Linked DNA regions of Homo sapiens: region 1 is linked to region 2. Evidence: fine-mapped expression QTL. Tissue or cell type: unexposed skin. Region 2 holds a variant in brackets; the other region holds the start of a gene. All regions are shown on one strand. Distances are between the middles of the regions. Region 1 holds the start of ACOT4 (acyl-CoA thioesterase 4). Region 2 holds the start of ACOT6 (acyl-CoA thioesterase 6).

Evidence for each region. PIP is the estimated chance that this variant, and not a neighbour inherited with it, causes the effect. A credible set is the group of variants that fine-mapping cannot tell apart.
Region 1: it holds the start of ACOT4, and the variant in region 2 is the best candidate, but not a certain one, in a credible set for the expression of ACOT4 in unexposed skin (GTEx, PIP 0.50).

The regions. Positions count from the first base shown.
Region 1 is chr14:73,589,026-73,594,395 of GRCh38, forward strand. It overlaps ACOT4 (acyl-CoA thioesterase 4), which reads left to right and starts at 2,848. Exons shown (of 3, transcript NM_152331.4): 1 at 2,848-3,391; 2 at 4,677-4,879. The coding sequence starts at 2,935. It also overlaps a transcript of HEATR4 not described here. RefSeq lists an enhancer at 3,082-3,581 and a silencer at 3,393-3,462.
Region 2 is chr14:73,610,368-73,615,737 of GRCh38, forward strand. It overlaps ACOT6 (acyl-CoA thioesterase 6), which reads left to right and starts at 2,150. Exons shown (of 3, transcript NM_001365788.1): 1 at 2,150-2,665. The coding sequence starts at 2,205. It also overlaps a transcript of HEATR4 not described here. RefSeq lists enhancers at 2,261-2,310, 2,328-2,827, 2,361-2,410 and a silencer at 3,486-3,730. The variant C/T (reference allele first, on the strand shown) is at 2,658.

The sequences.
Region 1 (5,370 bases), 21 kb before region 2:
CTATCAACATCCCCCACCAGAATGGTACATTTGTTACAATTGATTAACCTTCACTGACATACCATTATCACCCCAAATCTCTAGTTTGCTTTAGGGTTCGTTTGTTCTACATCTACAGTTTTGGACAAATGTATAATGACATGTATCCACCATTACAGTATCATACAGAACAGCTTCACTGCCCTAAAAATTGTTCCAACTATTCATCCCTCCCTCCCCACAATCCCTGGCAACTACTGATCTTTTTACTATCTCCAATACTTTTGCTTTCTCTCTTCCTTCCCTTTTTTCTTTTCTTTTTCCCTTTCCTTTTTTTGAAAGTTTCGCTCTGTCACCGATGCTGTAGTGCAGTGGTATGATCTCAGCTTACTGCAACCTCTGCCTGCCAGGTTCAAGCAATTCTCCTGCCTCAGCCTCCCAGGTAGCTGAGACTACAGGTGCACATCACCATGCCCCACTAATTTTTGTATTGTTAGTGGAGGCGGGTTTCACCATGTTGGACAGGCTCGTCTAGATCTCCCAACCTCAAGCGATCCGCCCAACTCGGCCTCCCACAGCACTGAGATTACAAGTGTGTGCCCCTGTGCCTAGCCTACCTTATATTTCATCAAAAAGCTTTTTTTAAGTAAACTGACATGTATGGCCAGGCACGGCAGGTAGCTCCCACCTATAATCCTGGTGTTTCCAGACTGGTCTTGGTCTCACTGACTTCAACAACGAAGCCACAGACCCTCGCGGAGATGTTACAGTTCTTAAAGGCAGCGTGTCTGGAGATTGTACCTTCTGATGTTCCCATGTGCTCAGAGTTTGTTCCTTCTGGTGGGTTCGTGGTCTTGCTGGCTCAGAAGTGAAGCTGCAAACCTTTGCGGTGAGTGTTACAGCTCTTAAGGCGGCATGTCTGGAGTTGTTCGTTCCTCCTGGTGAGTTCGTGGTCTGGTAGGCTTCAGAAGTGAAGCTGCGGACCTTCGCAATGAGTGTTACAGCTCACAACAGCAGTGCGGGCCCAAAAACTGAGCTACCTTTATTACAAAACTAAATAGAACAAACCTTCCCGCAACGTAGAAAAGAACCCCAACAAGTTGCCACTGCTAGCTCTGGCAGCCTGCTTTTATTCCCTTATCTGGCCCCACCCACATCCTGCTGATTGGCCCATTTTACAGAGAGCCGATTGGTCCGTTTTGACAGGGTGCTGATTGGTTCGTTTACAATCCCTGAGCTAGACACAAAAGTTCTCCACCTCCCCACTAGATTAGCTAGATACAGAGTGCCGATTGGTGTATTCACAAACCCTGAGCTAGACACAGGGTGCTGATTGGTGTGTTTACAATCCCTTAGCTAGACATAAAGATTCTCCAAGTCCCCACCAGACTCAGGAGTCCAGCTGGCTTCACCCAGTGGATGCCGCACGGGGTTCGCAGGTGGAGCTGCCTGCCAGTCCCGCGCCGTGCGCCCGCACTTCTCAGCCCTTGGGCGGTCGATGGGACTGGGCGTTAGTGGAGCAGGGAGCGGAGCTCGTTGAGGAGGCTCGGACCGCGCAGAAGCTCACGGCGGGGGCGGGGGCTCAGGCATGGCGGGCTGCAGGTCCCGAGCCCTGCGCCGCGGGGAGGCAGCTAAGGCCCGCTGAGAAATCGAGCACAGCAGCTGCTGCCCCAGGTGCTAAGCCCCTCACTGCCCGGGGCTTGCGGGCCGGCCGGCCGCTCCAAGTGCGGGGCCGCCGAGCCCACGCCCACCCGGGACTCGCGCTGGCCCGCAAGCCCCGCGGGCAGCCCCGGTTCCCGCCCGCGCCTCTCCCTCCACACCTCCCAGTAAGCTGAGGGAGCCGACTCCGGCCTTGGCCAGCCCAGAAAGGGGCTCCCACAGTGCAGCGGCGGGCTGAAGGGCTCCTCAAGCGCGGCCAGAGTGGGCGCCAAGGCCGAGGAGGCGCCGACAGCGAGCGAGGGCAGCCAGCATGCTGTCACGTATCACTAGCACTTTGGGACTACAGAGGCAGGAGGATAGTTTGTGCTCAGGAGTTCGAGACCAGCCTGGGAAACAGGGTGACACCTCCTCTCTAAAAATAAACATTTAAAAATTAACGTGGCATGGTGGTGCGCTGTCTGTAGTCACAGCTACTCCGAAGGCTGAGACAGGAGGATCACTTGAGCCTGGGAGGTGGAGGCTGCAGTGACCTGTGATCGAGCCACCGCCTTGCAGCCTGGATGACAGAGAGAGACCCTGTCTCAAATACAACAAAAAAGCAGGCCGGGCGCAGCGGCTCACGCCTGTAATCCCTAGCACTTTGGGAGGCCAAGGCGGGAAGATCACTTGAAGTCAGGAGTTCAAGACCAGCCTGGCCAACATGGTGTAACTCCCTCTTTACTAAAAATACAAAAATTAGCGGCATGGTGGCGCGCGCCTGTAATCCCAGGTACTCGGGAGGCTGAGGCAGGAGAATCGCTTGAACCCAGGAGGCGGAGATTGCAGTGAGCCGAAGCGCCACTGCACTCCAGCCTGGGCGACAGAGGAGACTCTGTTTCAAAAAAAAAAAAAGTTAAAAACAAAACCTTCCATGGAGCCCATGAAAGGCTGGAATTTGGCTTGATCTCATTGGCTTTTGGTTTCACCACAAATTGATCATCCAACAACTTTCATTCCAACAACCGAGGGTGGTGTGAGGCAGAGAGGCTTTCTACGGGGTGGGTTGGGCGCCACACCTTGCGCGCCCCGGGGCCCAAGGAGACGACCCTGAAGAGGAGCCTGGCTACTTTTGCCTCAGACGAGTCCGGAGCGCCGGGTTAACCGGTCTGAAGTCCCAGGGGCTTTCTGGGACTGCTCAGCCACCGGCAGCTTCCGGCACCAGGGGACGCCGGACGCCGTCCGGACATTCGGCGCGCTTGCCACGATCTTGGACGGGTCTCGGGCCTCGACCTTTGAATTCCCCGCTCCGGCTCCAAGATGTCAGCAACGCTGATCCTGGAGCCCCCAGGCCGCTGCTGCTGGAACGAGCCGGTGCGCATTGCCGTGCGCGGCCTGGCCCCGGAGCAGCGGGTTACGCTGCGCGCGTCCCTGCGCGACGAGAAGGGCGCGCTCTTCCGGGCCCACGCGCGCTACTGCGCCGACGCCCGCGGCGAGCTGGACCTGGAGCGCGCACCCGCGCTGGGCGGCAGCTTCGCGGGACTCGAGCCCATGGGGCTGCTCTGGGCCCTGGAACCCGAGAAGCCTTTTTGGCGCTTCCTGAAGCGGGACGTACAGATTCCTTTTGTCGTGGAGTTGGAGGTGCTGGACGGCCACGACCCCGAGCCTGGACGGCTGCTGTGCCAGGCGCAGCACGAGCGCCACTTCCTCCCGCCAGGGGTGCGGCGCCAGTCGGTGCGAGCGGGCCGGGTGCGCGCCACGCTCTTCCTGCCGCCAGGTGAGCCAGGCTGCTGGCGGGTGGTGTGAGCGTCAGTGGCCTGAGTCTCCGTTTGTTTCCAGTGCTGATTTAGCACTGGTTTGGTTTTGGAGCAAGATCAGAGAAGCTAACATTGACTATGTCAGTGGCCACTCTACCAAAATAGAGGGTTTGGTACCGGGCGTGGTGACTAACGCCTGTAATCCCAGCACTTTGGGAGGCCGAGATGGGCGGATCACTTGAGATCAGGAGTTTGAGACCAGACTGGCCAGCATGGTGAAACGCTGACTCTACCGAAAATACAAAAATTAGTCCAGCCTGGTGGCACACGCCTGTAGTCCCAGCCACTCGGGAGGCTGAGGCACGAGAATCGCTTGAACCTGGGAGATGGAGGTTGCAGTGAGCCGAGATCGCACCACTGCACTCCAGCCTGGGTGACAGAGCGAGACTCCGTCTCAAAAAAAGAAAAAAGAAAAAAAAGGATTTTTTGTTAGGCTGTGTACTACGGTTTTTACTTGCATTCTATCAGTTAGTCTCTATAATATCCCAATGAAGTTGGTATTGTTATTCTGCAGATGAAAAAACAGGTTCAGGTCGTCAGGTACATTATCCACTTTGCTATTAATCACTACCCTACAGATTTCTACAGGCATCAGCCTGACTTGTCTAAGGCAGAATGATGACAGTGAATGAAGCTATTACCATGTCGTCTTCTCTAGTGTTCTAGGCACACTGTCTCTTCTCCACTTCTTCATGTGCTGCTTTATCACAGGTCACACTTCAGACTCCACTGCCTTTCTCACCTAAAACCATCTCTGGGTATTTCTTTTTCTTTCCTCCCTTTCTACATAGACATCTGAAATATCAGTACACTAAAAACCAGAGGGCTGATGCAACAGAACATAAAGTTTTGTTTCAATCTTTTTTCTTTTCTTTCTTTCTTTTTTTTTTTTTTTTTTTTGAGACAGTGTCTGTCTCTGTTGCCCACGCTGGAGTGCAGTGGTGTGGTCACACCTCACTGCAGCCTTGACCTCTGGGGCTCAAGTGATCCTCCCTCCATTGCCTCCCAAGTAGCTAGGACTACAGGCATACACCACCACACTGACTAATTAAAAAAAAAAAAAGATTGTAGAGATGGGGTCTCACTACATTGTCCAGGCTGGTCTTGAACTCCTGGCCTCAAGCAATCCTCCTGCCTTGGCCTCCTAAAGTGCTGAGATTACAAGCATGAACCACAGTGTCCAGCCAGGAAAGCAAATTCTTTAAATTGTATAATGGCTTACATTTATAATATTTTGTTCTCTAGGACCTGGACCCTTCCCAGGGATCATTGACATCTTTGGTATTGGAGGGGGCCTCTTGGAATATCGAGCCAGCCTCCTTGCTGGCCATGGCTTTGCCACGTTGGCTCTAGCTTATTATAACTTTGAAGATCTCCCCAATAACATGGACAACATATCCCTGGAGTACTTCGAAGAAGCCGTATGCTACATGCTTCAACATCCCCAGGTTCTCCTCATGTCCTTTATTTAATCAGTCTCTCTAGAAATATTTCCATAGAGAGTGTAACCTTTACCACGTGCAGAAATGCTGCTCTGTTCCTCTTTCACAAAGATGTCTTCTGGAGACTTCCTTGGCTTAAGGTGCTATTTCCACTTTTTCTGTCAGATGAATTTGTGATATAGAATTAATTGTAAAATCCACATGAGATTTTATTTAGTAATATTAAATATTATCTGTATATTGCAAATTGAATTTCTAATCTACTGTCTTTGCATGCTTGTTTTTAAATTTTAATTTCCTGGTGTCAGAGTATGTTCTCAGATTTTGGTCAGAACTTGTCCACCCCTTTCAGAAGCCAAGAACAAACTTACTTACTCTGAAGTCTTGCTTTGTAATCATTTGCCAATACATATGGCAAATGATCTGATGAATGATTCACATCTTGAAACAACCTGGTTCCACACTATTGGATGCATTGCCACATGAAGACTTCAGTC
Region 2 (5,370 bases):
GCAATCACCACCTCCCGGGTTCAAGCAATTCTCCTGCCGCCGCCTTCTGAATAGCTGGGATTACAGGCGCGTGCTGCCACGTTCAGCTAATTTTTGTATTTTTAGTAGAGACAGGGTTTCACCATGTTGGCCAGGCTGGTCTCAAACTCCTGACCCCAAGTCATCCGCCCCCCTCGGCCTCCCAAAGTGCTGGGATTACAGGCATTAGCCACCGTGCCCGACCAAGGTGCCATATTAATATGATCAGACAAACCTCTGCCTCCAGATCCTGGGGGTCTGGAGGGCATATGAAATGTACTAGGTTTACTAAAGGAGGTATCTGGGTTGGGGATGGACTGCAGGGCAGTTCTCTGGTTGGCCTTGGACTGACTCAGTTCTCCCCTCTTTCTCACTAGTAGTTCTCAAGCATAGAACGTGCTGGGAATGTAACATCCTGAGAGAGGGACGGACTGGCTGGAATAGCCCTGGCTCTATTCCAGCCCCTCCCTACAAACAGGATGTCTTTCAATGCTTTAACCCAGCAGTCACATGACCCCAGAGTACAAAACTCAGGGCAGCTGCAGTGCAAGTGGGGCACACACACATGAGATTCCATCACCCAGGCAGCATTCCTGAGCCTTGGGGGACTGGTTTCCAATGATTCTTAGGCTTCTGTCATTCTTTGCTGCCTATCTGTAAGTAATAAATCCAGTTCATGTAAATTGTTGTATTAAATATATGAATGTGTTTTCTCACTGGACTCAGACAAGTTGGTAACCAGCATACAGTGAACTTGCTTCATAGAGTCTAATACCTTTTTGTTCAGTTTATACATGTTTACTGAGCTGGGCATCACTATATGCTCTTCTTCCTTCTCCACCCTGCTATGTTCCCAGCTAGGTTGAGCTGTGTGGTTGGGTTTGGCCAAAGAGAGGCATTAGCAAGATACTGAAAAACAAGAGGAGAGTCAAGGGACTTATAGTCTCCTCCTTCCTGCCACAAACCATAGGTTCCTTCTAAAAAAGGTACAACTCCTATCAGACTGCCCCCTTCCCTTGAACCTTCAGATTCAGGGTTCTACACCGAATCTTGTTTCATTGTTTTTGTTTTTAAATCTTGCCCATGCCTTTGTAGATAGTACCTTTATAAAACTCTCCTCAATTACACAGGCTGAGAGTGCCACTTGCTTACTGCCAGAACTCTGTATGCATACAACCCAAAATGGACTCTGCCAGTGATTAGATTTGTGAGGTAAGAAACAAAACAAAACTTTCACTGGGTACTAACCTACAGGTGTGTCAGTGTAGTGTTTTTACACATTAGCCCATTTAATGGTCACAATAAGCCTTTTCAGATAAGAAAACTGAATTTAGAGGGTTATGTTTCTTGCTAAAGATCACCAGGTATTAATATTAAGGATCAGGGTCAGACCAGAACTCGGCTAGGTCTGCCTCCCTAAACATCTGCTTTGCTCCAGGTACCATTAGCCCTGGAAAAAAGGCTTGGTAAGGGACTGAGGGGTAAAGGACGGATTACGACCATGTTTCTCCAAGGGGTCACCTGAGTACAATCACCTGGGATGCTTTTTCAAAATCTAGATTCTTGGACTGTATCTCTCTCAATCCTTTAGCTCTCAGTGGTTTTTGTGCCTCTATTTCGACACTCACCACATTGGATTGCAGGAATAGTCATTAACTCTTTTTTTTTTTTTTTAGACGGAGTTTTGCCCTTGTTGCCTAGGCTGGAGTACAATGGTGCAATCTTGGCTCAATGCAACCTCTGCCTCCTGGGTTCAAGCAATTCTTCTGCCTCAGCCTCCCAAGTAGCCGGGATTACAGGCATGCGCCACCACACCTGGCTATTTTGTATTTTCAGTAGAGATGAGGTTTCACTCTGTTGGTCAGGCTGGTCTTGAACTCCTAACCTCAGGTGTGATCCACCCACCTCGGCCTCCCAAAGTTCTAGGATCACAGGCGTGATCCACCGCCCCCGGCCGGATTGGTCATTAACTCTTATTTCAGCAGATACTCTTTCATTTGGGACACTGGTGTATTTGCACAAATTCTAGGCGCCCCACGCAGCGGCCTGGAGCCTGTCCCCAAGTCCAACCAATGGGAGTAGTGTTAAGGGCTCCGCCCTCGACTACTTTCCAGCGCTCGGCAAAGCCGCCAGGCCCGCCCACTGACTCCGCGGAGCTGGGTCGCCCCTGTTCTACCCAGATTGGGATGGCAGCGACGCTGATCCTGGAGCCCGCGGGCCGCTGCTGCTGGGACGAGCCGCTGCGCATCGCAGTGCGCGGCCTGGCCCCGGAGCAGCCAGTCACGCTGCGCACGTCCCTGCGCGACGAAGAGGGCGCGCTCTTCCGGGCCCACGCGCGCTACCGTGCCGACGCCCGCGACGAGCTGGACCTGGAGCGCGCGCCCGCGCTGGGAGGCAGCTTCGCGGGGCTCCAGCCCATGGGGCTGCTGTGGGCGTTGGAGCCCGAGAAAGCCTTGGTGCGGCTGGTGAAGCGCGACGTGCGGACGCCCTTCGCCGTGGAGCTGGAAGTGCTGGACGGCCACGACACCGAGCCCGGGCGGCTGCTGTGCCTGGCGCAGAACAAGCGCGACTTTCTCCGGCCGGGGGTGCGGCGCGAGCCGGTGCGCGCGGGCCCGGTGCGCGCCGCGCTCTTCCTGCCG[C/T]CGGATGAGTAGTCTGCCCAGAATTTGGTCGAGCTCTGCGACCCCCACCGGCCCCTTTCCTGTCCTGGGAATCGCGTGATTGTGGAACATCCCTGAACTTGTTCCTTCGCTCCAGAGTCTGTCATGGATTCTGAGTCTGGGCGTCCGCTGTTGCCCAGGCTGGAGTGCCGTGGCTGGATCGTAGCTCACACTGCAGCCTCGAACTCCTGGGCTCAAGTCCTCTCGCCTCAGCCTCCTGAGTAGCTACTCCAGTCTTTCCTTTTTAAGTTTCACGTCCCTCCCTGGAGGCACCACCACTTTAGCTATGTGCTGAATAGTGCATTCAACTTATTATATATTTATTGAGAGCCACTATGTGCCAGCCATGTGGTTTTGTTTGAATACGATATGGGCAAAACCTTAAGCTGATGTGCAAGAAGGATTTTTGCCTCCTTTCACATCAAACTTCCAAAGAAGCTAAAATCCACAGTATTGGCAATGCCCTTTAATTGTTTAAAAACACACACAAAACTGCCTGACAGTCCTCTCCCTTCTATCATAAACATGCTGTACGTGGTTCTCAACCTGCAATGATTAGCCGCCCTCCCTGGGGGAAATTTGGCAATATCTGGAGACATTTGTGGTTGTCATATCTGAAGGGAGAGGTGCTATTGGCATCTAGCAGGCAGAGGCCAGAGATGCTGCTAAACATTCCACAATGCACAGGACAACCACCAGAACAAAGAATTATCTTGCTGAAAATGTCTGTACTACTGAGGTTGAGGAACCCTAGTCTAAGTAAACACAGGATGTTTGCTAGGTAAAGGTAGCCCAGAAAGAAGACTCCTGATTAATCCCTTCTAACTAAATTCCTGACTTAAACCTCTACCATATAAAAATGATGAGCCGGGCACAGTGGCTCAGGCCTGTAATCCCAGCACTTTGGGAGGCTGAGGTGGGCAGATCACTTGAGCCCAGGAGTTCAAGACCAGCCTGGGCAACATGGTGAAACTCTGTCTCTACAAAAAAAAAAAAAAAAAAAAAAAAATTAGGCAGGCATGGTGGTGCATGCCTGTAGTCCCAGCTGCTTGGGAGGCTGAGGTGGGAGGATTGTTTGATATCAGGAAGTAGAGGTTGCAGTGAGCTGAGATCACGCCACTGCATTCCAGCCTGGACAACAGAGTGAAACCCTGCCTCAAACAACAACAACAACAACAAATTCTAGAGTTGCAACAGCACATAGAATCCTTAAACCGAATTCTGTGATTATTCTCCAAAACAAGAAAACTTGCTTTATTTTTACAGCTCTTCAGCAATTCTTAGCCTTAACTCGTGGCTGCCCACTGTACTGTGAATTCCTGGGGCTGGAATTGGGTCTTACAGATTTCTAAATATCCATGTTCCTAGAGGCTTTCGCAAGGATATAGTAGGAGCTCAATAAATCATACTGACTGGGCCAGGCGCAGTGGCTCACACCTGTAATCCTAGCACTTTGGGAGGCTGAGGTGGGTGGATCACTTGAGGCCAGGAGTTCAAGACTAGCCTGGCCAACATGGCAAAACCCTACCTCTACTAATTATATAATACAAAAAAATTAGCCAGGCATAGTGGCTCACACATGTAGTCCCAGCTACTAGGGAGGCTGAGGTGGGAGAATCGCTTGAACCCGGGAGGCTGAGGTTGCAGTGAGCCAAGATTGCGCCACTACACTTCAGCCTGGGCGACAGAGCGAGACCCTGTCTCAAAAAAAAAAAAAAAAAAATCACACTGACTAAGAATCAACTAAAACCTTTCATTAAAAACAAACAAGGAGCCGGGCGCAGTGGCTCACGCCTGTAATCCCAGCACTTTGGGAGGCCGAGGCAGGTGGATCACCTGAGGTCAGGAGTTCGAGACCAGCCTGACCAACATGGTGAAACCCCGTCTCTACTAAAAATACAAAAGTTAGCCGGGCATGGTGGTGGGTGCCTGTAATCTCAGGAGGCTGAGGCAGGAGAATCTCTTGAACCCAGGGGGCAGAGGTTGCAGTGAGCCAAGATCGCACCGTTGCACTCCAGCCTGGAGGACAGAGCAAGACTCCATCTCAAAAAAAAAAACAAGGCGGCCAGGCGCGGTGGCTCACGCCTCTAATCCCGGCACTTTGGGAGGCCAAGGTGGGTGGATCACGAGGTCAGGAGTTCAAGACCAGCCTGGCCAAGATGGTGAAACCCTGTCTCTACTAAAAATACAAAAAATTAGCCGGGCATGGTGGCGGGCGCCTGTAATCCCAGCTACTCAGGAGGCTGAGGCAGGAGAATTGCTTGAACCCGGCAGGTGGAGGTTGCAGTGAGCCAAAATCACACCACATCACTCCAGCCTGGGCAACAGAGAGAGACTCTGTCTGATAAAAAAAAAAAAAAAAAAACAAAAAACAAAAAAAACCAGCAACAACGAAAAAAAAAACAAGACTGGGCGCAGTGGCTTACGCCTGTAATCCCAACACTTCGGGAGGCCAAGGTGGGCGGATCATCTGAGGTCAGGAGTTTGAGACCAGCCTCACCAACATGGTGAAACCCCATCTCTACTAAAAATACAAAATTAGCCAGGTGTGGTGGCACATGCCTGTAATACCAACTACTCGGGAGGCTGAGGCAGGAGAATCGCTTGAACCCGGGGGGAGACGGAGGTTGCAGTGAGCCGAGATCGCACCATTGCACTGCAGCCTGGGCAACAAGAGTGAAACCTTGTCTCAACA